4 linked regions of the Homo sapiens genome follow. The protein of the gene in region 1 interacts with the protein of each later gene in a pairwise test. Each region holds a gene or a part of one and is shown in the gene's direction. Other genes may lie near its edges.

Region 1 (7,060 bases):
TAACTAAGAGGCTTGGGTTGAAGGATTGATTAATGGTCACCTGTAACACCAATAGCCCCTACCTTTAGTGAGCACATCTGCATGTTCCAAGTTTAATATTGCTCCTTTTAGTTTCTTATAAGTATAGAGGCACTAAAAAAGAATGGAATGTTCCTTCTCCTGCTGAAGACTCCTACTTTGTAACAGAGTAGTTTCCAATAAACTTGCTTATTTCACTGTTCTCTCTGACTCGCCTCAAAATCTTTCCTACACGAGATCCAAGAACCTGCTCTTAGGGTCTGCATCGGGACCATCTTTTCCAGCGATGTTTCTACATAAAGAGTAAGTAATCCCAGCACTTTGAGAGGCAGTGGCAGGAGAATCACTTGAGCTCAGAATGTTGAGGCTGCAGTGAGCTGTGATCATGCCACTGTATTCCAGCCTGGGTGAAAGAGCAAGACCCTGTCTCAAAAATTAAAATAAAATAAAGACAGTTTTGTCCCCACATCCCTCCAGGCTGGAATCTCAGGGAAGCAGGTGGTTGTAGCGGAAGCACCCAAATAGGTGGGGTATTGGGGCTGGGTGCAGTGGCTCACGCCTGTAATCCCAGCACTTTGGGAGGCCAAGGCGGGCAGATCACTGAGGTCAGTAGTTTAAGACTAGCCTGGTCAATGTGGTGAAACCCCGTTTCTACTAAAAATACAAAAATTAGCCAGGCATGATGGCGGGTGCCTGTAGTCCCAGCTACTCGGGAGGCTGAGGCAGGAGAATCTCTTGAACCCAGAAGGTGGAGGTTGCAGTGAGCCAAGATTGCTCCACTGCACGCCAGCCTGGGCGACAGAATGAGACTCTGTCTCCAAAAAAAAAAAAAAAAAAAAATTAAAAAACAAATAGGTGGGGTACTGGAGAAACTGAAGAGATCGGAGCTGGTAGTCCACTTTCCCTCTAGGAAAGGAGGAGAGGCCTTACATTTGGCTTGCTTCACACCACCTTCACCATGGTGCTAGAGCAATGGCATTCAGTGGCAGAGGTAGCCTGATTGGGCATCCTGAGATAACTGCTGCTTCTCAGTAGCCTGCATGTGACATATGTGAGAATCTACATGTTTACATATTGCCCCAGTAAGTAACATTGGAGATGGTAAGCAGTCTGGTGAGCTAGTGGAGCTAAGGAGCCATAGCTTATGAGGGTTTTACAACCAGAGGTAAATGGCTGGAACCCTGGATCTCCGCAGTGAGGGCTGGCCTGGTACCACAAAAAGCCAGATGAAACCCGCTTCCCCTTAGTGAGGACCTACAGGTGTCATGCAGAGCTGAGGTCTCATTTTCCTGACCTCCACCATCAGGTCATATGAACACCTTGTACAATCAGATACTGTCTTGGGAAGAATCAAGAGAAGAGAGAGGAGAGACTAAACATTTTCCTAAAGGAGACCAGCTTCCTAAAAGGTGCAATTAAACTTGAAGAGTCTAAGATACTTTTTTTTTTTTTTTTTTTTTGCCGGAATCTTATTCTGTCGCCCAGGCTGGAGTGCAGTGACACAATTTCAGCCCACTGCAACCTCCACCTCCCGGGTTCAAGCAATTCTCCTGCCTCAGCCTCCTGAGTAGCTGGGATTACAGGTGCCCGCCATCATGCTGGGCTAATTTTTGTATTTTTAGTAGAGATGGGGTTTTGCCATGTTGGCCAGGCTGGTCTCAAACTCCTGACCTCAGTTATCTGCCCACCTCAGCCTCTCAAAGTGCTGGGATTACAGACGTGAGCCACCATGCCCGGCCTAAGATACTTTTTATTGATAAATTTAAGCTCACATTGTCTTCTCTTTTTACCCCGTCTAATAGTAGGGTGGGGCTTCTTTCTTTTTCTTCTTTTTTGAGACAGGTTCTTGCTTTGCTTTTTTTTTTTTTTTTTTTGAGACAGCGTCTTGCTGTGTCACCCAGGCTGGAGTGTAGCGGCACAATCGTGGCTCACTGCAGCCTCAACCTCCCTTGCTCAAGCAATCCTTCTGCCTCGCCCAGTTAATTTTTTAATTTTTTGTAGAGACAGGGTCCCACTATGTCGCTGACGCTGGTCTCAATTCCTGGGCTCAAGCCATCTCCCTGCCTTGGTCTCCCAAAGTGCTGGCCTTGGTCTTCCAAAGTGCTGGCATTACAGGCATGAGCCACCATGCTGGGTCTAGGGTGGGGTTTCAAGCTAAACTAGATCAGTTATAGATAATAAAGAACAGTCATTCTTCCTGTTCATCTGAGAGTCAAACTTTTTTTTAAAAAACTCTAATATAGATACTTTGTGCTTCCAAGTAATCTCATGGAGAAAAGCTTATTTCATTTATTTATTAATTCAGTAATATGACTACCCGACATATACTAGGTACCGGTGGCACAAACATCAATTATGTGTCATTCCTGTGCTCAGAGAGCTGGGTTCCTAGCAGGCTAAATACACTAGTGAGCAGGTGCTCACACCAGAAATAAGAGGGCTCCCATACAGTTACATACTGGGTGCTTTGGGAGAGGCATCTCCCCAAGGGTTTGGAAGCATCCAGGAAGGCTTGCTGGAGAAGGGAGCCTTTCAGATTGGCCAATATTTTTGTTAAGTGACAATATCAAATGATGGCAAAACTGTGGATGAAAAACTGGGAATACAAATTGGTACATTTCTGGAGAGCAGTGTTTTTACAAAATCTTTAAAATGTACATTTTTTAAAACCATAGTTCCACCTCTAGTAATTTATCCTAAGGAAATACTTTAGCTGTAGGGATGTTCATTGCAGTGTTATTTATAGCAATGAAAAATTCTCCAACAGTTGAGGGCTGATTAAAGTATATATTTTCACAAATCAGATATATAGTAATTAAAAATTGTGTTGTAGAAGCAAGCTTCTCAAACAGTGCTGCTCCAGAGACTACGTGCTCATTTGCCAAGGAATATGTGAGGCCATAGGACAAACTTAGTTCATCTTTCTCAACACGAATTTTACTGGTGATTTAGGAGTGTGACAGAGGCTACTAGTTAACTATCCCAATGTCCATTCTCTTTCCTCCTCAGTAACAAAACTCTTGATTTGTACCAGGGTGTGTTGCTGCTCACGAATAATAAGACTACATATCCCCATTCTCTGATGTGGCTAGATGTGGCTTTAGGAGTAAATGCAAACCAACGAGGTGTCAATGAACTGTTATGAAAGACTTTCAGGGAGGCCACCTTGATGGAGCTGACTCACAGGGTTGAGACAAGGGAGTGACCATTTAGCTACTTTCAGTAATTTTTAAAAAGCTTCTGTGTGATTTAAAAAGTTTTTTAAAAATTATTCTTAAAGTGGAAACAAATACAGTTTCAAATGTTTGGCTAATTCTAATTTGAGGAGTACAAGAAGAGGAGAAAAGGAGGGGGATGTGGGAGGAAGCGGATGCTTTATTTCTAAGAGAATCTTGGATAAGCAATGCTGATTTTCCTCTATGATTAAGTCCAATCTGAAAAGGCTGACAAGTCTCGTATAAATTGCTTGTGGTAGAGACTCCTTTTTTTGTGTTTTCACTGTGCTTATGGTTATTTCATTTTGTAGAATCCAAGATGCCCGCCCTCCTCCTCCTCCTCCTCCACCCTCTCCCAAATTTGCCTAAGATATAATAGGCAGGGTTTCAGGATTTAGAAACGATGCACGTAGATTTCAGACTGCGCCTCTCTCTGACATCAGAAAACCTACATTGCCTAAGGCTGGCACAGAGTTGGCCCCAAAGTCTACTTAGAATTTGCCGGCGGAACAGCAATGACCACTGGGCCACAGCGCTTAAGACGCCCGCTGGGTACCAATCCTGGGAGTCGGGGGCGGTGCGAGTCGGGCCCCCCCCATCCCAGGTCTGCGTAGCCAATAGCTCGGGACGGGAGCGGGAGGGGCGTGGCGTGTCCGGCAGGGGGCGCCGTGATTGGCACGCCAGCTCCCGCTGTCCGCGAGGCTGCCCTAAAGTCTAGCTCATGAGAACCCCAGGCAAGTGCGGACCTACAAAGTTTGTCCGCTCCGGGGCACTGTAGTGGCTTTTACCCTGGCCGGGCGGGCGGGGCTCAGCCGGGCTGGGCTGGGCTCCGCGGCTGGAGCCGGGCTCTACCCAGAGCAAGACCCTGATGGCTGCGGTGTTTCTGGTAACGCTTTATGAATACTCGCCGCTTTTCTACATCGCGGTGGTCTTTACCTGCTTCATCGTGACCACCGGCCTGGTATTGGGATGGTAAGTGTCCCAGGGGTGAGAGACGAAGGGGCGGATACCGCCAGAGTGGGGTCGCGACGAGCAGCAGGGGGCACCGGAGCCGGAGGGCCGCGGGCCGGAGGACGTCGGGGATTCGGTGTCCCCGGGTGCCTAGAACTCCGACTTTCTCTGGGAGGAAAACAAGGTGGACGCTGCACCTGCGTCACTGCCCTGCATCACCGTTTGGTCCGTGTCGCTGGGGCATCTTGGGGTGGTACCGCATTGGGGTGTTTTACTCAGCTTTGTTTCTAGGCGATAAAGCAGCCAGGAAGGGCTTGGGCTTGGGCTTGGTGTTGGGAGAAAGTGCTTCTCTAGTAGGCTTCTGTCCCGGATTCGGGCCTACTGTGTGTCCTGGATGAGTTAGTCACCTGTGCTACAGTGCACAGACTGGACAGTAAGCGAGGTTAACAGTTGTGATTCTGACCTGAATGGAGCCCTTAGCCTCAGATCTTTCAGAGTAACTTGTAACTGAACTGTTACCGTTTGAGAATTTAATGGTTTCTGTATACATTCCACACCTTTTGAAGTAATATTTAGTCGATAGAATTGTAAAATCATAATTTTAGAGCTGGAAGAGACCTTAGAAATATGTAACACCGAGGGTAGGACAGTTGCCTATTGGAGACAAGGAGAATGGTCTGTTAGATAACCGCTGAGCAATTCTTCTAGCCTAGAGGTTCAATTTCTCTCTTGAGGAGATGCTATTGTATCATGTTTAGACAAGCCTTGTAAATAACGAGTTGAAACCGTGTAACTAGCCCACAACAGTTTTTCTAGGCTGCAGCCTCCAAAATCCCTTTGAGATGATAATAGTTACAAAAAGATCAAACAGCAGTTCTAAGTGGATAACAGCCATGGTCTGAAGAGGTCAGAGGGGACTCTGTTGAAGAGGGACATGAGCTGGATTTTGGAGAATGAGCATTTTGAAAAATAAATGGAGTTAAATGTATATAGTAGGGAAGAAAAAGCATCTCAGAGAAGACAGCATGAGCATAGGGGCAGAGAACATGTTAGTGAATAAAGAAGGCTACGTAAAACGAGTTTTAAAATAGCCTTTGGTCACATATATGTGATTGCCTTAAAGAACACGGGCCCTTGTCGGTTTCTGAAAATATATGCCATCTTTAGGAAGTGACAAAAGTTTTAACCTGTCCACACTGCTCCTCACCCTACCAGCAATAGAGCATAGAATTCCTTGCCTTGTATGTGGGTGAGGATTGGAAATACAAATTCCTTATTTGTGGGGGTAAGATTGGAAAACAAAGACCAATCTTACACAATTGGTTATTCTTGACCCATCAGATTTTATTGCTAATGTTCATTACACAAAAGTTTGTAATTGGAATGAGGAAGGTGTTGCCCATGTGAGAAAAGCAGTCTTAACACAAGATTTTTAAATGACTATAATGTTAGTGTTATTCTCTTAATGAAGCATAATTTTCCTCCACTAAGGAAAATAGTAACTAGTTGATAATTGCCTTATGTGCTTTAATTTTTATTTTAAATAGGCCAACTAATTAGATATCTTAGATATCAATCTTTAGTATTGGGAAGAGGGTAGTCAGGAGCCTCATGTTTGTAGTGGTTAACAGACAGACTTTGGAGTCAGTCAGACATAGGTTCAAATCCTGGCTCTGCCAGCTTTAAGACTTGGTTTGAAAATTTAATAATTGCCAAATCACCCCATTTAGGTAAGACTTTTTACAAGAGTGGAAGCCCATGTAATTATAGAACGTTTGGAAGTCTGGGCTAAGCACTGCTGAGGCCACAAGACCATGTAAATCCAGTCACTTCCATCCTAATTTAGGCCTAACCAGTCATCTTGTGCCTAACCCAACCATTCTCTCCATCCGAGTTAGTTTTGCCCACGTAGATAAACTTTTTACTATGTTTATTTGCAAACTTAAGCCAAGGCCATGTATTTATTGACTAGAAATGATGAAAACTTGGACACCATCTAAATCGCATAAAAACATCTTTCTAATAGTACCAATAGTACCCCAGTCAGAAGGGTAAACTAGTTAATACGCATGTTTTTCACCCTTGTCATTGTTTTGTTTTGTTTTAACCTCCCATAATACCATCTCTACTGTTCATGTGTTTTCTGTCATGGTTTTTCCCTTGGTACTTCTCTGAGTTTTTCACTATTTGCTTCTTTCCACTGTTTGCCATGTCTGCCTGCACTGTGTGGGAGTGGAGAAAAAACAGGAGCATATGATTATTGGAATCCCAATAGCAATAGCAAAGAAGCATGCAACTGGAAATATAGTATTTTTCTTTCACCATGTGGTGGTTTCTGTGATCTCTGATAGCTTTCTGCAGGCACTGAGCACAAAGAAGCCCAAAAGTCCATTTACATCCTTTAACAGTTTCAAATAATCAGGGACCATGACTCCAGTAGCTATTCCCGGCCTCCTCTTGACCACAGTTTATTAAGCTGTTGACCTCAACTTCATACCACCCTCTGCTTTGTGAATCTAGGGCAGAACTCTAAACTACATTTCTTCTTTGCAAGCTGACTGCCCATTGGGCTTTGCCAACAAGGGAGGGAGACTGGAAAGCTGGAAGAGGATGAAGGGACTTGCTGCTTCCTGTTGATTCCTTTTCTTGTCTGTCACTTGCCACAATAGTGCCTCACTCTGGCATTAATAGTTGGTCCCACTTGTTCCAGTTTATGCTTTCCTACTCTGCTAGAATCAGCCTTATGCACTTCCTTAAAGATACCAGTATCCTTTCCTCAGATCTGAGTCCTGAGCTCCATAGAGTCTCTCCTCCACATTTCTAAACTATAGTAAATTCTCTTTATTCTCTTTTCTCTGTTCCCTTGTCCTAGGAGT
Region 2 (7,024 bases), on another chromosome or scaffold:
CTGCAAATTGAAATCTCAAGGGTTAGTCTCCCTCTGCCTTCTGTGAGGTTCTGGAGGCTGGAGTCACTGAAGTGTAATATAGAGTCAGTAAATGAATTACAAGTATAACAGAGTTTGACACATGTCCCACCCCATTTACTTTGATATCCTAGAGAAAGTGGTCTTACATCTTTCTTCCTGGCCCCGCGCCCCATATCCCTGTCCAGAGGGCAGACCTAGAGCCAAATCCTTACTTCATAGAAGAGCAGATTCTGGAACCCCAGGGTTTCTGGGAAGTGGAGAGAGAACAGGATTGGGCTAGAGGGTATTTTGGGCCTCTTAATGTAGCACTATGGGCTTGTGCCTGTCTCTGTAGGAATGTGACTCAGTATATGTGTGTGTGATTGTGAGGGTCATGACTGTATATAATGGGTTTGAGTGGGTCGTGTGTGAGAGAGACTATATCTGTGCCTGTCTGTATGGAGATCTGATTATGTACGTGTGTATGTGTCCTGGGGTGAGTCCCGTGGCCTCTAAGATTCCATAGATGTCTGTGTACCCTCTGGACAGGGATATGGGGTGCGGGGCCAGGAAGAAAGATGTAAGACCACTTTCTCTAGGATATCAAAGTAAGTGGGGTGGGACATATGTCAAACTCTGTTATACTTGTAATTCATTTACTGACTCTATATTACCTGAGACAGAGACCCAGCCTCAGTTTCCTCATGTCTGAAATAGAATTGATTAGCTGGGCATGGGGGTATGCACCTGTAGTCCTAGCTCCTCAGGAGCCTGAGGTGGGAGGATTGCTTGAGCCTAGAAGTCTGAGGCTGGAGTGAGCTATGGTTTTCTCACTGTACTTCAGCCTGATGACATAGTGAGACCCCCATTTCTAAAAAATAAAATAGGGTTGATAATTCCTGTCCTGCTCCTTCCCAGGGCTAGTGTAGAGCTCTAGGTAGAAGAAGGATAGGAAGGTAGTTTAGGGAGGATGATGAAATGTGAGGAGCAGAAGGAGGAGGAGGAAGAGACTGTCAGGTTGGAAGGCAGGGCAGGAAATGAACTTAACCTAGGGGCTTTAGGTGGAGAAGAGGCAGATTCTGCGCATGGACCATTGGGGTCCCTCAGAGTTCTGAAGGCCCCAGCCAGCTGGATCCCCACTTCATGTAAAGAGCATCTGCTTCAGAGAAATGGCTAGGATTAGCAGTGGGGTCTAGCTGTGAGTATGGGGTGGAGCCCCACTTCTTTACTTCATGTGACTGGAGTTTCCTCTCCTCCTGATTTGTCAGTGGGTAGACATGGGTGTTGAGGTATGGACACCCAATCTGATGAGACCTGGGGCTGGGAGCTATTAGAAAGAACTGGACGAAAAGGGCGAACAGGCGATCTGAAGGGAAGGAGTACCCTTTTGTGACCTAGTACATGACCTAGTACCTATTATCTCAGATAATGCATCAGATATTCCTGTTACGCTAGCCACTCCTGATCATCCCGCAAAACCCTGCCCCGCTAGCTCTAAAATGTCTTCCCTATCCTCCTTGGGGCTAATGTAATCACTCCCTCCTCTGGGTGCCCACAGTTCCCTGTGTTATCTATCACATCATATTTGTGTCTGTCTTCCCAACCAGATGGGGATCTCCTTGAAGGCAGGCACTGCATTTGAGTGAGAAAGTATTTGGGTTTTTTTATTTGTTTTAGAGGCAGGGTCTCATTTCCGTCACCCAGGCCAGAGTGTAGTGGCATGATCATAGCTCACTGCAGCCTCAAACTCCTGGGATCAAGCAGTCTTCCTAACCTCAGACTCCTGAGTAGTTAGGACTACAGATGTGAGCCACTACACCCAGCTTAATTAAAAAAAAAATTGTGGAGATGGGGTCTCGCCATGTTGCCTAGGCTGGAGTGCAGTGGCATGATCATAGCTCACTGCAGCCTCAACCACCAGGGCACAAGTAATCCTCCTGCCTCAGCCTCCTGAGTAGCTAGGACAATAGGTATGCACAACCATGCCCAGCTAATTTTTGTGTATGTGTGTGGAGACGGGGTCTCACACTGTTGCCCAGGCTGGTCTTGAACTCCTGACCTCAAGTGATCCTCCCACCTCGACTCCCAAAGCACTGGGATTATAGGCGTGAGCCACTGTGCCTGGCCAGAAAGTGTTGGTTGAATAAATGATTAAGACTCCCTAGCCCAGTGCCCTGGGGAAAGGAAGGCATGGTATAAGTCAATCATAGTCCAAGCAAAATTATAATATTTGTATAGTATATGGAGTTAAACAGACTAGGCTGTTTGCTCTGCCCCTTATGGCTGACCCCAAGGGCTGATGGCATCAATACCCTATTAGCTAGGTTATTGCATACCTTGCATACCTATTACCTGTTCTGGGCATACCAGTTAGGGAATTAAGATATAGATAGTTGCTGGAGTACTTGGTCCCTCTGGAGCAGTACTAGGTCTGTGACCCTGAGGGTATGTTGTCCCCACTGCCTGAGCCTACGGTGTTGGTTCCACCTTGGAATTTTTATATTTGCTCTGAATTTCCCACTCAGAGTATCCCAGAAATGGCCAGCCCTAGGAATAAAAGAAGCAAGCTAGTCCATCATATCTGTAATTGATTACTTTGCCTCTGCTCGCATATCCCCAGTGATGGGGAGCTTCCTTCCTCCCCAGGTAGCCTGTTCTAAGGAAGCTTAATAACTAATAATTAGCCTTTTTCTTTTATTTTCTTTCTTTATTTTTATTTAGATGTAGTCTCACTCTGTCGCCTAGGCTGGAGTGCAGTGTTGTGATCTCAGCTCACTGCAACCTCCGCCTCTTGGGTTCAAGCAATTCTCCTGCCTCAGCCTCCTGAGTAGCTGGGATTACAGGTGCCCGCCACCACACCTGGCTAATTTTTGTATTTTTGGTATTGACGGGGTTTCGTCATGTTGGCCAGGCTCGTCTCGAACTCCTGACCTCAGGTGATCCACCTGCCTTGGCCTCCCAAAGTGCTAGGATTAAAGGCGTGAGCCACCATGCCCAGCCTCTTTTTTTTTTCTTTCTTCTTCTTTTTTTTCTTTTAACAGAGATAGTTTCTCACTATGTTGCCCAGGCTGGTCTTCAACTCCTGAGCTCAAGTGATCCTCCTGCCTCAGCCTTCCAGAGTGCTAGGATTACAGGCTTGAGCCACTGTGCCTAGCCCAAGCTTTTTCTTTCCTTCTTTCCTTCTTTCCTTCTTTTCTTTCTTTCTTTCTTTCTTTCTTTCTTTCTTTCTTTCTTTCTTTCTTTCTTTCTTTCTTTCTCTTTCTTTCTTTTTTTCTTTTTTTCCTTCTTTCTTTCCTTCTTTCTTTCTTTTCTTTCTTTTCTTCCTTTCCTTCCCTTTCCCTTTCCCTTGCCCTTTCCCTTTCCCTTTCCCTTTCCTTTCCTTTCTTTTCTTTTCTTTTTGAGGCAGGGTCTTGCTCTGTTGCCCAGGCTGGAGTGCAGTGGCACAATCTTGGCTCACTGCGACCTCTGCCTCCTGGGTTCAAGCCATTCTTATGCCTCAGCCTCCCGAGTAGCTGAGATTACAGGCATGCACCACCGTGCCTGGCTCATTTTTTGTATTTTTAGGAGAGATGGGGTTTCACTATGCTGGCCAGGCTGAAGCTTTTACTTATAGTGAGTATGTACTTACTTTCCGGTGAGTCTCTGCCTTGGCCCTGGCTCTGCTTTGCCGTAGAACTATTCTCTCCTCGTGGCTTCAGGTCAGCCCTGTAGAGACAAGAAGACAGTAATGAGGGGCCTTGAGTCTGTCTTCTTCTTTTTTTTTTTTTCTTGAGATGGAATCTCGCTTTGTCACCCAGGCTGGAGTGCAATGGCACGATCTCGGCTTACTGCAACCTCCGCCTCCCAGGTTCAAGCGATTCTCCTGTCTCAGCCTCCCGAGTAGCTGGGATTACAGGCACACCGCCACCATGACTGGCTAACTTTTTGTATTTTAGTAGTGACGGGGTTTCACTGTGTTACCCAGGCTGGTCTCGAACTCCTGACCTCAGGCAATCCAGTTCCTTCAGGCAACCTTCCAAGGAAATGGTTTCCAGGCTCTTCCCTATCCTGAATGTACCGTTGAACTTGGCCCAGTTTGTCACTGTTCTCTGCTGGGCCTTGATTTGGGTATAGAACTCCAGGTGGCCTGGGCAGTACAGGCAAAAGCAGGACTATTCATTCTTATTCCTGGCTGTTAGACCTCTGTTGAGGCAGCCTGAGCTGCTATTAGCTGTTTCTGCACAGGTACAGGCTGAACATCGATATCTCATATTCAGGCTTGTTGAGATCTCTTTTGTATCCTGCTTCTGTCATCATAGGATTTAGCCATTTCTCCAGTGAGGCCCAACAAGCCCTCTCAGTCCTGCTCTAACAAAAAACGGCCAGACCCCTTTTTGCTTTCTCTCTTTCCCTTATTGGAAACCTGCCTATGACCCTGGATACAACTCTCAGGAAGGTCCCTGCCCCCATCACTGGCAAAGAAGCTACTGCCAGCTGACCTCAGCCACTATCACTTCTTCCCTTTGCAGAGTGTTCTAGGATTTATGACATATGCTTGTTGATCCTGGGAAGGATGTGTGCCTGGGCAGGCGTGGAGAATTGGGTACTGTGGGCGGGAGGGCAGGCCCTGAGGAGCAGGGGGTGGGATCCTCCAGTCTTAGAATAGTCCCAGTCTGGCTACAACCTTCAACCCAAGACCCGGATTCTTCAGCACCGAGTGTGAGTGTTCCTTCATGAGGCCCCCACCCCATTCCTGGGTCTCCTTAGTGGAGGGAAGTATGAGTGCCGAGGGGAGATTGGGTCCTAGGCCTTTTAATATCAAGCCATCTCTGTCTGCCTCAGCTTGATCCAGAGGGAAGCCCAGCTTGAGGGGTCAAGGTGTTTGGGCAGTGGGGTTGTGAGGGGGAGTTGTCGGCCAGGAGGGAGAAGAGATTGGAAGAAGCTCAGTTCCCTGGGTCTGGGTCTGACCTGGACAGAGATCTCCTGGGTCTGGCCCAGGACAGCAGGCTCAAGCTCAGTGGAGAAGGTTTCCATGACCCTCAGATTCCCCCAAACCTTGGATTGGGTGACATTGCATCTCCTCAGAGAGGGAGGAGATGTAGGTCTGGGCTTCCACAGGGACCTGGTATTTTAGGATCAGGGTACCGCTGGCCTGAGGCTTGGATCATTCAGAGCCTGGGGGTGGAATGGCTGGCAGCCTGTGGCCCCATTGAAATAGGCTCTGGGGCACTCCCTCTGTTCCTAGTTGAACTTGGGTAAGGAACAGGAATGTGGTCAGACAGGGTCAGTGGGAGGGCTTTGGCCATTCTGAGCCAACGGTCCTTTGTTAGTTGGCCTGAAAGAAGCCATGACTTAGAACCTGAAGCTGTCAGGTGGCAAGAGGCCTTAGTCCTGGTGTTTGATCCTGGCATAGTTCTGGGCCTCAGTCTCCCCTTCTGTGAAATGGGAATAATAACCTTTCTACCTCTGACCCTTCTCCTGAGTGGCTATGAGGGTTGTGAGAGTGAGGTGGGCCACCAGAGCTCCCTGTCCAAGCCACCGGGAGCCTCTCTTCTGTAGGCTCTTCAAGAGGTGGACCTAGAGTATCACTGTGCCAGGGGGATTCCTAAGCTCTGACCCTGCCTGTCTCTGCTGCTCCTGCCCCATCTCCCTCTGATCCTTCTCCTCTGCACTGTCTTCCTTTTCCCCTTATGCCTTTTCTACCCTTTCTGCTCTGGCTTTTCCTTATACTCTGAGGAGCCATCTCTGGAAAAGGCCCCACTTTCCCAGACCCAGGTGTCCTACCAGGCCCCAAGTTGTATCCCTCGTGCTGCTTAGGCCACGCCCTGCAGGATGTTCTCTGCGGCCTCCCAGCCTTTGGACCCCGATGGGACCTTGTTCCGGCTTCGCTTCACAGCCATGGTCTGGTGGGCCATCACTTTTCCTGTGTTCGGCTTCTTCTTCTGCATCATCTGGTCCCTGGTGTTCCACTTTGAGTACACGGTGGCCACTGACTGTGGGGTGAGTGCCAGCTCCCCAGCCCCTGGGTCAGGGCCAGGTCAGGAGGTGGCAGTTAGGGTAGAATTAGATAGTGGAGAGGAAGTGGAGGATCAGAGAGAGGGAAAGGGACAAGGGGATGGGGGAAGGGTAGGTAAGTCAGAGTCAGAGATAATTCATGGGGGGAGACTCAGAGAGAATAGAATCACAGTCCTCCCTGAGTTGGAAGATGATGATAGAAATGCAAGGGAGATGACGGGCGCAGTGGCTCATACCTGTAATCTCAGCACCTCGGGAGGGCGAAGCCAGTGGATCACTCGAGTTCAGTTCGAGACCAGCCTGGGCAACATGGTGAAACCCCGTCTGTACAAAAAATGCAAAAAAATTAGCTGGGTGCCCTGGCATGCCCCTGTAGTCCCAGCTACTTGGGAGGCTAAGGCAGGAGAATTGCTTGAGGCTGGGAGGTGGACATTTCAGTGAGCTGAGTTCACACCATTATACTCCAGCCTGGGTGACAGGAGTAAAACCCTGTCTCAAAAACAAAACAAAATAAAAAAAAAAAAACAGCAGGCTGTGCACTGTGGCTCATGCCTGTAATCCCAGCACTTTGAGAGGCCGAGGTGGGAGGATCACCTGAGGTCAGGAGTTTGAGACCAGCCTGGCCAACATGGTAAAACCCTGTCTCTACTAAAAAATACAAAAAAATTAGCTGGGCATGGTGATGTGTGCCTGTAATCCCAGCTACTCAGGAGGCTTGAGGCAAGAGAATTGCTTGAACCCGGGAGGCAGAGGTTGCAGTGAGCCAAGATCGTGCCAAAAAAAAAAAAAAAAACAATAACAGTGCAAGGGAGTTGGGGGTTAGAGGGAGGTGATAGGGGAAGAGAAGGGATTGGAATGGGCAGGAGAGATCATGAGAGGAAGGAGGCAGATTGGAAAGGAAGCCAGGACTGAGGAGGTAAAATGAGGCCAGAAGATGGGAGATGTAACAAGTGGCTTTGGCCCAGACTCGGGGACTGACCTTGGAGGATCCATCCTCAGCTCTGATCTGGATCCTCAAGCTTTGTTTCTC
Region 3 (7,024 bases), on another chromosome or scaffold:
CTTTGGGAGGCCAAGGCAGGTGGATCACTTGAAGTCAGGGGTTCGAGACCAGCCTGGCCAATATGGCAAAATCCCTTTTTCACTAAAAACACACACACACACAAATTAGCTGGGTGTGGTGGTGCGTGCCTGTAATCTCAACTACTCAGGAGGCTGAGGCATGAGAATTGCTTGAACCTGGGAGGCAGAGGTTGCAGTGAGCCGAGATGGTGCCACTGCACTCCAGCCTGGGCAATAGGGCACGACTCTGTCTCAAAAAAAAAAAAACAAAAATTAAGATAGGCCAAGATTAGTGGCTCACACCTGTAATCCCAGCACTTTGGGAGGCTGAGGCAGGCAGATCACTTGAGGCCAGGAATTCAAGACCAGCCTGGCCAACATAGTGAAACCTGTCTCTACTAAAAGTACAAAAAATGAGCCAGGCGTGGTGGTGCGTGCCTGTAATCCCAGCTACTCAGGAGGCTGAGGCACAAGCATCGCTTGAACTCAGGAGGTGGAGGTTGCAGTGAGCTGAGATAGCACCACTGCACTCCAGCCTGGGTGACAGAGCAAGACCCTGTCTCAAAAAAAAAAAAAGAAGTATTTAAATGAAATGTTTCCCTCCCCCATTAAAAAATGATGTCATAGTCTAGAAGGGAAGATAAAAAGTGTCAGTTGCTATAAAGCAAAATGCACCTGAGGATTGTTTTCAACTAGAAGGAGGACTCTGACAATGGGCTGAACATTAAATATGACAGATTTAATGGGATCTTAAGCAGTCATTGAACAATGCAGATTACCTATGTATATGGAGAAGGTGGTAGAAAAACTTTATTAGCTTGAACCTGCAATCTAAAAAAACCTCAAATATTTTATATATGTTAGGTACAATCCTGTGAAAATTACCTATTACCTTGGTGATAAGCCAATATGAGAGAGAGAAAATATTTCCAATTTTAAGTGTTAGAGCTAGAAGAAGTTTAAGATCGTCTTACGGTGTGCTTTTCATCTGTATTCCTCAGGCAGCCTTTGAAGTTCCAAGTAGGTAGACACCTTGGATGGCCCACTGGGTAACCATCAGCCTTTTTTTTCCAAAGTAAAAAATAGTTTATTTTTTCTGGGTATAAAAGTAAATATGGGCCAGGCGCAGTGGCTCACGCCTGTAATCCCAGCACTTTGGGAGGCCGAGGCAGGCGGATCATGAGGTCAGGAGATCGAGACCATGGTGAAACCCCGTCTCTACTAAAAATACAAAAAATTAGTCGGGCGCGGTGGCGGGCGCCAGTAGTCCCAGCTACTCAGGAGGCTGAGGCAGGAGAATGGCGTGAACCCGGGAGGCAGATCTTGCAGCGAGCTGAGCTCACGCCACTGCACTCCAGCCTGGGTGACAGAGCAAGACTCTGTCTCAAAAAAAAAAAAAAACAAAAGTAAATATGTGCTCATTGTTAAAAATAAAAATCAGGCAATTCAAATAAGCATAGAAAGTGTGAAAATCACCCACTGTCTTACCTTCAAGAAATAACCACTGTTTATATATTAGTGTGCATCTTTTATATATTGGGTATATAGTTGTACTTATGAGATACCAACTATTTTTAAATCTTTTTTTCATTGAATAGATTGTAGGTATCTTTCCATGCCTATTAATGTAGCCTTACTTAATACTCTAAGCTTCCCATTCTATTCCATTATATGGAAATACTCTAATCTGTTTAGTCCCTTCCCTACTAATGGGTATTTAGGCTGCTTAAATTTTTTTTTTAATGCTGTGACGGACATTTATGCATACAAACAGACGTGTGTCCTTTTCTTCTTTCTCCCTTTCTGTCTTGGCTCTCTGACTCTCTCACTTTATTACTTCAGTTACTGCCAAATTGCCCTCTAGAAGGTTTGTACCAATCCTACTCCCCTACAGTGCTGGCAAGTATTTTCCAAGTCCCAGCCGCCACAGTTACTTCGGTTGATGGAGCATGAAGGGTGCTGGTGGAGGGGCACAGACATGGAATTAAGCAAAGCCGAGTCCTAGCTGGGCATGGTGGCAGGTGCCGGTAGCCCCAACTATTCAGGAGGCTGAAGCAAGAGGATCACTTCGGCTTGGCAGGTCGAGGCTACAGTGAGCCATGATCACACAACTGCACTTCCAGCCTGGATGACAGAGAGAGGCTTTGTCTCAAAAAAACAAACAAACAAACAACAAAAAAAAAACAACGATGAGTTTTCCACTTATACTGACTAGATGACACCTGAAGTTCTGCTGCTCAGTTAGTAGGATGACAGGGATTAAGTTTCCTGACTGACTCCTAGCCCAGGGCTCACTGTGACCCATACCATACAGAGTACTTCCTTTGCTTCTCCTTCCTTGGCAATTCATAAAGGGTTCAGTGGGCGCAGACTCCCAAATGTCAACCTGAATTCATTTCTATTTTAGAGGGTATTATATATCTTAACATACTTTCATATGTATTTATATGAAAACCACCAACCACCTTGAAGGTTGTCCCTATTTTATGGCTAAGAAAATGGAGACACTCCTTAAATGGCCTGTCCAAGTTCCTACCCAAGACTACAGGTAACCCCTTGGTCCCAAGCCCTAAGACCTCCCTGGCAAAGAAATGTCTAGGATGAAGCCTCAGTCACCACAAAAAAGTATGTTCTGTTAGTCTATGTGCTGTGAGAACCCAAAGTCGCCCTGACTGTTTCTGTTTCCCAATCTCAGGTGCCATCCAAGTGCCTTGTCTCTTCTTCTGGAGCTTCAATGGGCTTCTATTGGTGGTTGACACAACAGGAAAACCTAACTTCATCTCTCGCTACCGAATTCAGGTCGGCAAGAATGAACCTGTAAGTGTTGTTGCAACTTCTGGTCAAAGCACAGAAAGCAAGAGCCAAAGCCACACTCTCAGAATTCTCACCACTGGCCCAGGAGAGACCTGGCCAGTGTGAGCCAAGTTATTAGCAACAAGGCTCCCCCAGTTTAGAAGGTTAAAGAGAGGAAATAATTTGCCCACAACCTCAGAGTCACTCAGCTAGTGGCCAGTCAAGACCAGTGTTCTGGTCTCTTGATTCCTGGCCCAGGCTCTGGACCTGCCTGTGGTGCCCCATGGCACTGTGGTCAGCCTGGCACTGAGAAGGCAGGCAACTCCACTTTACCCATAGGAATGGAGACAGCAATGGGTGGATGCTAGAATATGGGTAACAGCTGTTGTTATGAGAGAGGGAGACAGCTGCGAAAACAATGGATAACTCCACTGTAATAGACGGATAGTATGGATTCTGAATGTGTGGGCGGTGGCTGTCTTTTAAACAAGTTCTCCTTCCGAAATACTCAATTCGACCAATAGTGAAAGGCACCAGGGCAAATCCATGATAAGTGAGGCCCAGACCCTGCTTACAAGGAACTCTGACTTGCACAGCGCCGGGAAGTGGGTCCCACTGTTCCCTGAGTCTGGCTCGCCTTTTCCTACACAACAAGGAAGAAGTTGATTCTGAAACCCAGGTTCTTTACCCAGCTCCACCCAAACCACATCCTGGCTTCTTTCCCAGACAAGACAATCATCTTTTAGTCATCTGCCCAGGTGTCTGGGTGAACCACCTCAGCTCTCAGGTCCTTTTGCCCCAGCCCAGCACTCCAGAAAGGCAAACAGTGCTCTTGACCCACTCCTTTGAAGTGGGCCCCTTCCTGAACTGGACTGCTGGCCTGGCTTACTGTCCCCCTCACTTGGGACAACAGCTGCCAGCCAGGCTTGGGGGCTTCCTCCAGGCCCAGCTTGGCAGGACATGAATCAGAGCCTAAAGTGTCAAACCCTGTGCTTGGTCCTTGAGAACACTTCATCTGTCAACCACGGCTGTTGTAGCACCACTGACTAAATGCTCACATCTTCAACTGAGGCCAAGAACCTTCACTGTTCAGATGAGGAAACAGAGGTGTTACACGGGTAAACTATGATTCAAATGCAGGCTTTGTGACTTCAGGGCTCACATTCTTAATTGGCTCTCCAGAATATTACCTGCCGTCTGTACAACCTTGTGGTCTACACAATGACTACAGAGCTACATTGGAAGATGTCATTGCATTCTGCAGAAGCTGAGGTTCAGAAATGTCCAGTGACTAGCTCAAGATCAGATTGCTGCTAGGAAACAGAGCCAGGGCTCATCCCATCTGACACCAAGTCCAGTGTTCCTGTACCACATGCACCCTCAAGTGGGCACACAAGCAGGAAAGAACCTCACGAGGCCATTTAATCTTTGGCTGTTTCAAGGAAGGACTGGCCCCTGAACTAACACATCAGAAACAGATCCTCAAGTGGGGAGCTGAATGCTACCTGGTGTTCCTATGATCCATTCCTGCTCTGTTTACTCTCCCACTGCCTGAATGGCTAGTTCACACCTCCTCCCCTAACTGCTGGCAGAGGGAGGGGCCTTGCTTCCCATTTCACTAAGAAAATTTAAGCCTGGGCGTGGTGGTTCATGCCTGTAATCCCAGCACTTTGGGAGGCCGAGATGGGCAAATCACTTGAGCTCCGGAGTTCAAGACCAGCCTGGGCAACATGGCAAAACCCTGCCTCTACTAAAAATACAAAAATTAGCTGGGCATGGTGGCGCATGCCTGGAGGAGAATTGCTTGAACCTGGGAGGCAGAGGTTACAGTGAGCCGAGATTGCACCACTGCACTCCAGCCTGGGCGACAGAGCAAGACTCTGCCTCAAAAAAAAAAAAAAAGAAAAAAAGAAAATTTACGCAGGCTGGGGCACAGTGGCTCAGGCTTGTAATCTCAGCACTTTGGGAGGCAGAGACAGGAGGATCGCTTGATGCTAGGAGTTCAAGACCAGCCTGGGCAACATAGTGAGATCCCTGTCTCTACAAAAAAAATTATTTTAATTAGCCGGGCACAGTGGCGTGTGTCTGTAGTCTCAGCTAGTCAGGAGGTCAAGGCAGGAGGATCACTTGAACCTAGGAGTTCAAGGCTGAAGCGAGCCATGGTTGTGCTATTGCACTCCAGCCTGGGAGACAGAGTGAGACACTGTCTCTAGGGGGAAAAAAAAAACAAAAAACTAAAGCAAGCAGAAGAGTTTTATAGATGCACACCACATTGGGCAGTGACCAGTACCTGCACCCACATGCTCTGCCTGCCCACCTGACACCACAGGTGAACTCTCCTTGCTCCTGTCTGTGGGTGATTCCTCCCCTATCCATGTACTACATCCAGGAAATGGCTGCTGCAATTCTCTCTTTGCTTTCTTGTATCTTCTTTTCCTTCTCTTTCTCTCATTATTCCTCTCTAGATTATTACAAACGTGGTAAATTTTTTCCATCTAAAAAACAAAACAAAACAAAACAAAACAAAAAAAACCCCACCAAGTGTGGTTGCTCACTACTGTAATCCCAAACTTTGGGAGGCTGAGCCAGAAGAATCGCTTGAGCCCAGGAGTTTGAGATCAGCCTGGGTGACAGAGTGAGATCCTGACTCAAAAAGAAAAATAAATAAATAAAACAGGCCAGGTGTGGTGGCTCACGCCTGTAATCCCAGACTTTGGCAGTCTGAGGCAGGAGGATCACTTGAGCCCAGGAGTTCGAGACCAGCCCAAGCGACAGAACGAGATCCCATCTCTACAAAAAATTTTTTAACTAGGCAAGTGAGGTGGCGTTTGCCTGTAGTCCCAGCTACTTGGGAAGCTGAGACGGGAGGATTGCTTGAGCCCAGGAGGTCGAGGTTACAGTGAGCTATGATCATACCACTACACTCTAGCCTGAGTGACAGAGTGAGACACTGACTCAAAAAGAAGGAAAAAAAACAGGCCAGGTGGAGTAGTTCACACCTGTAATCCTACCACTTTGTAAGGCCAAGGCAGGAGGAATGCCTAAGCTCAGGAGTTTGAGACCAGTCTGGGCAACATGACAAAACACCCCACCCAACACTGTCTCTACAAAAAATACAAAAATTAGCTGGGTGTGATGGTGCATGCCTGTAGTCCTAGCTACTTGGGAGGCTGAGGTGGGAGGACTGCTTGAGCCCAGGAGGTTGAGGCTGCAGTAAGCTACGGTTAGGTGTAATGGCCTCACCTAACATGTCCTCTCACAACAGGCTGGCGAAACCTGGCCTCGCGATGGGATGGAAGTAAACAAAGAGTGCACTCCAGCCTGGGTGACAGAGTGAGATCCTCTCTCACAAAAAAACAGACATACACACACACACACACACACACACACACACACACACACAAAATAACAGAAAAAACAACTCTTAACTAGCAAAGTTCTTTGAGAGAGTTATCTTTATAGTTTCCAATTCCTGTCTGTCCACTCTTATTTGGGTTTTGTTGGTTTTTTTTTTTTTTTGAGACAGTCTCCCTCTGTCACCCAGGCTGGAGTGCAGTGGCACTGCGATCTTGGCTCACCGTAACCTCCACTTCCTGGGTTCAAGCAATTCTCCTGCCTCAGCCTTCCAAGTAGCTGGGATTACAGGCGTGTGCCATCACGCCTGGGTAATTTTTGTATTTTCAGTAGAGATGGGGTTTCACCATGTTGGCCAGGCTGGTCTCGAACTCCTGGCCTCAGGTGATCCACTAGCCTCGGACTCCCCAAGTGCTGGGATAAAAGGCGTGAGACACCACGCCCGGCCATCTGTCTACTCTTTTCCCCAACATCCTGTAATTATGAAAAATGTTAAAAATACATACAGAAGGTTGAAAAATAATGTAAGAATTATGCATTTACATATCACTTAGATTCACCAATTTTAAATATTTTTGCTTTATATATAAAAATATAAATATATATGCATCTATACATTTTTCCTATTTGAAAGTGAGTTTGAAACATCATAAAACTTGACCCCTAAATCCTTTAGCCTGCATCTCTCCTAAAGTAATCACAAAAGCATTGTCTCATTTTCTCTATAAACCTCCTCCAAATTAGGTGTCACACCTAGAAAAAGGCTCTACCAACATTTCTTTTGGTAAGTTCACCAATGATATGGTTTCATTAGAGCACCAGAGACATTTCCACAGCTGCTGACTCCCTCAGCCTTGAAATATTTTTTTCACTTGGC
Region 4 (7,412 bases), on another chromosome or scaffold:
TTATTATTATTATTATTATTATTTTTTTTGAGACAGAGTCTCGCTCTGTCACCCAGGCTGGAGTGCAGTGGCACCACCTTGGCTCACTGCAACCTCTGCCTCCCGGGTTTAAGCGATTCTTTTGCTTCAGCCTCCTGGGTAGCTGGGACTACAGGTGTGCGCCGCCATGCCCGGCTAATTTTTGTATTATTAGTAGAGACGGGGTTTCACCATATTGGCCAGGCTGGTCTCGAAATTCTGACCTTGTGATCTGTGCACCTTGGCTTCCCAAGGGATAACAGGCGTGAGCCATCGTGCCTGGCCTGCTGTTATTATTTTTATGACATTTCATTCTGTGGTTTGGAGCCATCATTTTGCCTTGTTGCAAGGCTTGAATCTTGAGTTGGCCTTTTGATGTATTTGCTTTTCAGCTCTGTGCCATTAAGCACAGAGAACGTGCTTTCTGTGTCACCATTTGAGGCAGGACCAAGGAGAGGCCTGGGGCAAGTCACCGAAGACCTATCTGTACTCTTTGGCTTCAGTGATCAAAGAAATCCAAGTCTCCCTCATGGTGCAATCAGGTGGCCCATTTTTCTCCCTCCTGACTCTGAAGCCTTTGTGACAGATTTTAAAGAGGCGTTTGTAAAGTCCACACCTAGTGTGTCTCCAGCAATCATACTCTTGATTGAGGTCAGACTATCTTGTATTTTACAGATGGAAAACTGTCACTTGCCCAAAGTCACATACTGTGGCAAGGCTGGTCTCTTTAACCAGAGTCTCCCTATTCTTTCTATTACATCATGCTTCCTCCACAGTTCACGAAACTCTTGCTGCTCTAATAAATTACACACTTGGTGGCTTAAACAATACAAATTTATTGTCTTACAGTTGTGGAGATCAGGTCGACACAGGTCTCACTGGGCTAAAGTCAAGGTGTCTGCAGGGCTGGTTCCTTTCTGGATGCTGAAGGGGAAAATCTGCTTCCTTGCCTTTTCCAGCTCTCAGAGGCTTCTTGCATTCCTTGGCTCAAGGTCCTCTTCCTGCACCTTCAAAATCAGGACCTATGGGTTGAGTGTTTCTCCTGTGGCGTCTCTCTGGCCCTCCTTCCCTCACCGAATCTCTTTCTTCCCATGATGGGAAAGGTTCTCCCTTTCAAGGACTCATGTGATCAGAGTGTGCCTACCAAGATAAAACAGGATAATCTCTCTATCTAAAGGACCTTGATTAACATAGCCACATCTACATTTTGTCAGGTAAAGTGACATAGTCACAGGTTCTGGGGATTCGGGTGTGAACATTTTTGGGAGGCCATTATTCTGGCTACCACACCCTGTCAGTAAACTAGGGCTTCCCGGAGGCCAGTGGGTTAAAGTAATGAAGACAGATATAGCCTGACTTTCAGAGTCTTAGGAGATGCTCCCGATGTCCTGACATAGACTGTATCAATGACACAAAGTTGATCAGGTGAGCCCCCTTCCACATGGCAAATTCTATCTGATGCCCTCATGGTTGGGCCCCCTCCTCTTGTCAACCGTAAACACCCATTCCCTGTAATGAGTAGTGGGGAGGCCAGGAGAGGGCAAAACATGGGTGTTAGTGTCTGCCCTCCAGGCTCTCAGATGATGATAGTATGGTTCTGGAAAAGCTGAAATGTACAGCACTGACCCCTCACCTCTTAAAAGTTCCCTGATATTTGGGCAGTAGAGGTACAGCTTGGAGTTACAGGTATCTTTTCTGATGTCCAGCCTCTAAATGTAATGTGAATGTCAAAACTGTAAAGACCCCAAGTGACACACGTGGGGAAGGGGAAGGATCCTACTCTCTTACCCTGTTCACAAAGGAAGGCTACAAGCTGGTCTAAGACAGAAGCGAATGCGGCCTGTGATGAAAAGATATGTAACCATCACCAAAAGAGCTAAAGAGGAGAAAAATATAGAACAAGCCTGGTTAAGACATTCAAGATATTGCGGTGTGCAGTTCCATCTGGGGATCCCCTTCTTTTTTTTATTTTTTTTTATTTTTGGAGACAGAGTCTCACTCTGTGGCCCAGGATGGGCACAATCTCGGCTCACTGCAACCTCTGCCTCCCGGGTTCAAGCAATTCTCAGCCTCCCTAGTAGCTGGAATTACAGGCACATGCCACCATTCTCAGCTAATTTTGTATTTTTAATACAGATGGGATTTCACCATGTTTGCCAGGCTAGTCTCAAATTCCTGACCTCAGGTGATCCGCCCACCTCAGCCTCCCAAAGTGCTGGGATTACAGGTGTGAGCCACCATGCCGGCCAGGAGATCCCCTTCTTAAGCCTCTCTACAGGTCAAGTTAGGCAGCAAGCCCATGTATTCCATTTTTTTTTTTTTTTTTGGAGATGGAGCTTTGCTCTTGTTGCCTAGGCTGGAGTGCAATGGTGTGATCTTGGCTCACTGCAACCTCCACCTCCTGGGTTCAAGCGATTCTCCTGCCTCAGCCTCCTGAGTAGCTGGGACTACAGGTTCGAGCCACCACACCAGGCTAATTTTTTTGTATTTTGTAGTAGAGACGGGGTTTCACTATGTTGGCCACAGACACCTTTTTGAGTGCAGACTAGAAGCTTGGTTTTGGCATTTTACCTGGCATCTACATCATGTTCACCTGTGTATTGGATCTGAAAACTGGGACATTCTACAGTTTGTGGAACTCCTGCAAATGTTCCTGCAATTGATTTACTCACACACTGCCCACACCCACCCCCTGTACACCACAGGTTCAAGTATTTGACTCTTCCCACCCCACCCACCCCTGCCACCAGCTGCTCTATACCCTCCCACTCACTCTCAGGGCCCCTGAGGTCCCCAGGGAGTCACCACCACATACCACTCTCTGTATCTGGGGGAAGGTCTAGGTTGTTGGAAACTTTAATCAAGCAAGGACAGTTAACAGCTGCAGAGGCACCTTAGGAAACAGTGAGCTTCAAAAAGGAAATACTTGTAGGATCTCTTGTGATGACCTTTGACGACTTTTCTGAAAATGACCCGTCATTCTCTGCCATGGAAAATAACAGTGATCACAGGCAGCCTTCAGCCCACAGAAGGCTTCCTCCTCCAGGCAGGCTCTGACATAGCCGCTCACCTCACAGATGCCCTAACAGACTGCAAAGTCCTGGGAACATGCATATCCATGCACACACATGCACACGTGCCTCTCTACAAGTACATTTTTGAGGTCACAGCTTTGCCTCAGTGGCCACTTCCTCTAGGGCTGGCTGGGCGGAGCTATTGGCAGAGCTCTAGGGTCCCTGGCAGTGTCCTGCCACACACCACCAATCATCCGAGCTGTTGGCATGTGGTGAGGACCTTTTCCCCCTTCCTTTTTCCTCCCCACAGCTGCAGGAGGGGGATTCTGCGGGGCGGATGTCACTTTGCTAGGGGCGGGTTCTTCCCACCCCCACACTACATCTTGTTCTAGCTCCTTCCTATCCCGGATGTAGGCCATTTTGGGGTTCCTAGTAGGGGTCACATCCCGGTAAAAGAACATTAGGGAGCACCTTTGGGCACCCCTGCTCAGCAGCCCCCTTTCCCCCAACTGGTTCCCTCTCTCCTCCATCAGCCAGGCCCCCACCACCTATGAGGGCCTCGCGGTCCCTGGGTCCTCCGCCACAAATGCCCCCTTTTTCCTTGGGGCTGGGTGGGAAGGGACAGCTTTGGGACTTTTTAAAGAAAGAACTTTGCTAGGAAAGTAAGAGACGAACCAAAACCAAACCAAGAAAATGTCAAGACCTCCGCTGGTCCGGAATCTGCGCTCGGCCTCTGGCTCTGTTCTGCTCCTCTGCCTTGACTTCACCTAGGAAGCTGCAGCCTTCTTAAGCCCTCTGCAACTCCCTTGCTCACCTGCTCCCTGGCTCCCCATGAGGGTGCATGGGGGGCAGTGCTGCCACTTGCCTTTCCAGAGGTGCTGCAGCCATGGCTCTTCCTTACCTTCACCTCTGGCCCAGGCCTGTTCCTGAACCCCCAGTTACTGGAACCCCCAGGATGATGAGAAGCGAGGGATGCAAACCAGGAACCCCCAGTCTCATGGGGAGAACGGAGCCTCACCCTGGAGCTGGGGAGATCGTCTGGGTCAGTGCAGCTCCAGCTACACATCATAAGCCCCAGTGGACAAGGCAGCCAGGAGGAGGGTGGGGCAGATCAGGGCAGATAACCAGAAGGACCGAGTTTGGGGCCCAGCATGGCCCATATGGGTTTAAGATGCATGGAGAGGAAGCACAGGGAGGACATGGGGACAGGCCCATCCCCTACCCCTGTGTTCTGGACCTCAGCGTCCCCTCCGTGGCCCCTCTGGCCCTGGCCCAGGGATGCCTTCTGCTTCATTGAGCCCATCTGTTTGAGACTTGCTAACACCTTCCTCTTTTGTGACTGGAAGTCACAGGGCCAATTGCTAAGCCGTGCAGTCACAGAGGGAACACAGAGCCTAGTTGTAAACGGACAGAGACGAGAGGGGCAAGGGAGGACAGTGGATGACAGGGAAGACGAGTGGGGGCAGAGCTGCTCAGGACCATGGCTGAGGCCATCACCTATGCAGATCTGAGGTTTGTGAAGGCTCCCCTGAAGAAGAGCATCTCCAGCCGGTTAGGACAGGGTAAGGGGGATGAGGCCTCCCCTTGATCCTGCATCCCCACTTCCCGCCCCACAGATCCCATTCCCAAATCCCACCTTGGTCCCTTTTCTCTTCTCTCTAGACCCAGGGGCTGATGATGATGGGGAAATCACCTACGAGAATGTTCAAGTGCCCGCAGTCCTAGGGGTGCCCTCAAGCTTGGCTTCTTCTGTACTAGGGGACAAAGCAGGTCTGGAGAGCCTGGGGGATGTGTGTTTGTTGGGGGGCTGTGTCTTGAGCTGGGGAGTCCACAATGTTTTTGTTGTTGTTCTTGAGACAGGGTCTTGTTCTGTCACTCAGGCTGGAGTGCAGTGGTGTGATCATGGCTCACTGCAGCCTCGACCTCCTGGGCTCAAGTGATCCTCCTGCCCTGGCCTCCCAAAGTGTTGGGATTGCAGGCGTGCGCCCCCATGCCATGGCCCTCAGTATTCTTGAGAGCACAATACCCTGGGGAAAGGAGGAGGGCGGTTCTTAGGAAACAGAAGAATAGGAACAGGATAAATGGGAGCCAGGGGAGGAAGAAAGATTCCTCCCGCAAGGTGGAGACCCCTTTCGGGGAGATAAGGGCTGCGGAGGGATAGGGCAGCCCTGTGGGGGATGAGTTCTAATGGGAAACGGGGAGCCATGGGAGGGAAAAGAGGTGATGGGAGATGGATGAGAGCAAAGGGGGAGAGGGTTTGGAGCCGACAGATAAGGGGCCTCTGAGGAAACGATAAAGGGAGAACTAGGAGAGATGAGGGGGTCCCGGGAAAAGATACAGTGAGACCCAGGAGGAAGCCGAGAGAGTCCCGGGCAGAGGAGGAACTCAGGAGAGTGACACTGTGTCCCAGAGCAGCTCTAGCAGGCAACGTAGGGCAGACTGGAGTTTCCCAGTGGCGAGGGCGAAGCGGGTGCGCAGGAGGAGAAGGGGCAACACTCGGGGCTTCCGGTCTCACACTGGATGCTCCCCTCGACAGCGGTCAAGTCGGAGCAGCCAACTGCGTCCTGGAGAGCCGTGACGTCACCAGCTGTCGGGCGGATTCTCCCCTGTGAGTGTGCCTGTGCGGGGCAGCCGCGGGGCCAAGTGCTCGCGCCTGTCCCGGCTGCGGATGGCGCTGGGCCCCGCGGGGTGCAGCTCCTTCCGGGATAAACCCGGGCGCAGTCCTTCCGACGCCCGGGCTGCCGTGCCACATTCACCTTCATCCGGTGCGCCTGAATCCGACGTGCACCGCCCCCCTGCGGATGGTCCCAATTCACCTACCTGCCCCCCTTCCCCTCTCTCCGTCTGATATTTCCTTCCCCTTCTCCCAGGTAACGCCCCCGAGTCCCCACCAGCACTGATTCTGGAACACCCTCTCCCCTACCTGCGAAACACCCCGCTACCCGACAGAAACCACCATGCTTGCCCCCTCAGCTCTGCACCGCCCTCCTCTTAGGGATGCCTTCCCCAGGGGTCTCCCCCACGGACCTGTCCCTTCCTCTCTACATTCTTTACGGGGGCTGACTGCCCTCATCCATCCCACTGTCCCCCTAAGGCCGCACAACCTGCCTGCGATACCTCCTGCTCGGCCTGCTCCTCACCTGCCTGCTGTTAGGAGTGACCGCCATCTGCCTGGGAGTGCGCTGTGAGTAAGGCTGTCCCTACTTCCCACTTACACCGAACGACTTTCGTCCCGACTCTCGCCCCAAAGCTGATCTTCCTCAGCAGGGATCATAGTCACTACCACCACCTCCTTAGCTTTGGGTTTGGTTTCCAGCCAGGGCTGTTGTCTTCCTGAATTGTCCTCACCTAATCCAGTACCTCCTTACGCTTTAGTCAGTCAAATCTTGTATTTCAGCCTGTGATGCAAAAAGTTGCAAGAAGCAGAAAAAGGGCTGATGCTGCAGTCTCAGGGCACTAGGGCAGGGCTGGAGAAGACATCCACCAAATCTCTGTGGCCAAACAGATCTGCAGGTGTCTCAGCAGCTCCAGCAGACGAACAGGGTTCTGGAAGTCACTAACAGCAGCCTGAGGCAGCAGCTCCGCCTCAAGATAACGCAGCTGGGACAGAGTGCAGAGGATCTGCAGGGGTCCAGGAGAGAGCTGGCGCAGAGTCAGGAAGCACTACAGGTGGAACAGAGGGCTCATCAGGCGGCCGAAGGGCAGCTACAGGCCTGCCAGGCAGACAGACAGAAGACGAAGGAGACCTTGCAAAGTGAGGAGCAACAGAGGAGGGCCTTGGAGCAGAAGCTGAGCAACATGGAGAACAGACTGAAGCCCTTCTTCACATGCGGCTCAGCAGGTATCCGCTCTGGGGAGAGGAGAGAAGGGAGGGATGGATTGGAGCAAGGAGATAGTAGTGGCAGGAGTCTATCACCCAGGGGCCTGTGAGGTGTTCAGGAAAGGGGCAGTGAACCAGAGTGGTGGCTGACATGAGCTGTTCAGCCTTGGCCAACAGAGAGAAGGACCAAGCTGCATACTAGATTTAGGGGGACCCACCCAGCTCCAAGGCTCATCCTGTAGGGGAGAGGAGGATGGCAGCCAGCAGTCCAAATCACACTGTCCAAGGTTTCTTCCGGTTGATATCAGTGACAAGGATCTGGGAACGCCCCCAAATTTGGATGTGAACTTGGCGGTTTGCACATCTTTCTAAAGACAGGGACCTCATTTTTAATTAATTTTCGTTATAGCTGAGATCTCCCCAAAGGGTAAGACTTACTGGCTGACATGGAGTGCAACCTGGTGGTGGGGCAAGGCAGTGAGGCGCTCAGCACTCACAGTGAGGTGGAGCTGGGAGTTGTGGTGTAGGGAACTAGGATGGGGTGTCCATTCATTTTGAAA

Evidence for each region.
Region 2: the proteins of CGRRF1 (region 1) and PGAP2 interact in binary tests that used the Homo sapiens proteins (3 or more experiments, as listed by UniProt).
Region 3: the proteins of CGRRF1 (region 1) and FAXDC2 interact in binary tests that used the Homo sapiens proteins (3 or more experiments, as listed by UniProt).
Region 4: the proteins of CGRRF1 (region 1) and CD72 interact in binary tests that used the Homo sapiens proteins (3 or more experiments, as listed by UniProt).

Annotation. Positions count from the first base shown.
Region 1 is NC_000014.9:54,505,859-54,512,918, forward strand, and holds the start of CGRRF1 (cell growth regulator with RING finger domain protein 1), read left to right. Parts: upstream 1-4,047; 5' UTR 4,048-4,101; coding exon 4,102-4,205; intron 4,206-7,060. UniProt on the Homo sapiens protein: Able to inhibit growth in several cell lines.
Region 2 is NC_000011.10:3,811,557-3,818,580, forward strand, and holds part of PGAP2 (acyltransferase PGAP2), read left to right. Parts: intron 1-3,628; exon of another isoform or gene 3,629-4,530; coding exon of another isoform or gene 4,531-4,698; intron 4,699-5,748; coding exon of another isoform or gene 5,749-5,796; coding exon 5,797-5,979; intron 5,980-7,024.
Region 3 is NC_000005.10:154,826,594-154,833,617, reverse strand, and holds part of FAXDC2 (fatty acid hydroxylase domain-containing protein 2), read left to right. Parts: intron 1-2,695; coding exon 2,696-2,817; intron 2,818-4,077; exon of another isoform or gene 4,078-4,160; intron 4,161-7,024. UniProt on the Homo sapiens protein: Promotes megakaryocyte differentiation by enhancing ERK phosphorylation and up-regulating RUNX1 expression.
Region 4 is NC_000009.12:35,615,404-35,622,815, reverse strand, and holds the start of CD72 (B-cell differentiation antigen CD72), read left to right. Parts: upstream 1-4,402; 5' UTR 4,403-4,512; coding exon 4,513-4,594; intron 4,595-4,694; coding exon 4,695-4,802; intron 4,803-5,568; coding exon 5,569-5,640; intron 5,641-6,126; coding exon 6,127-6,216; intron 6,217-6,429; coding exon of another isoform or gene 6,430-6,470; exon of another isoform or gene 6,471-6,537; coding exon 6,538-6,873; intron 6,874-7,412. UniProt on the Homo sapiens protein: Co-receptor of B cell receptor (BCR) that plays both positive and negative roles on B-cell functions. Recognizes the Sm/ribonucleoprotein (RNP) self-antigen ligand, and coligation of CD72 and BCR inhibits BCR signaling.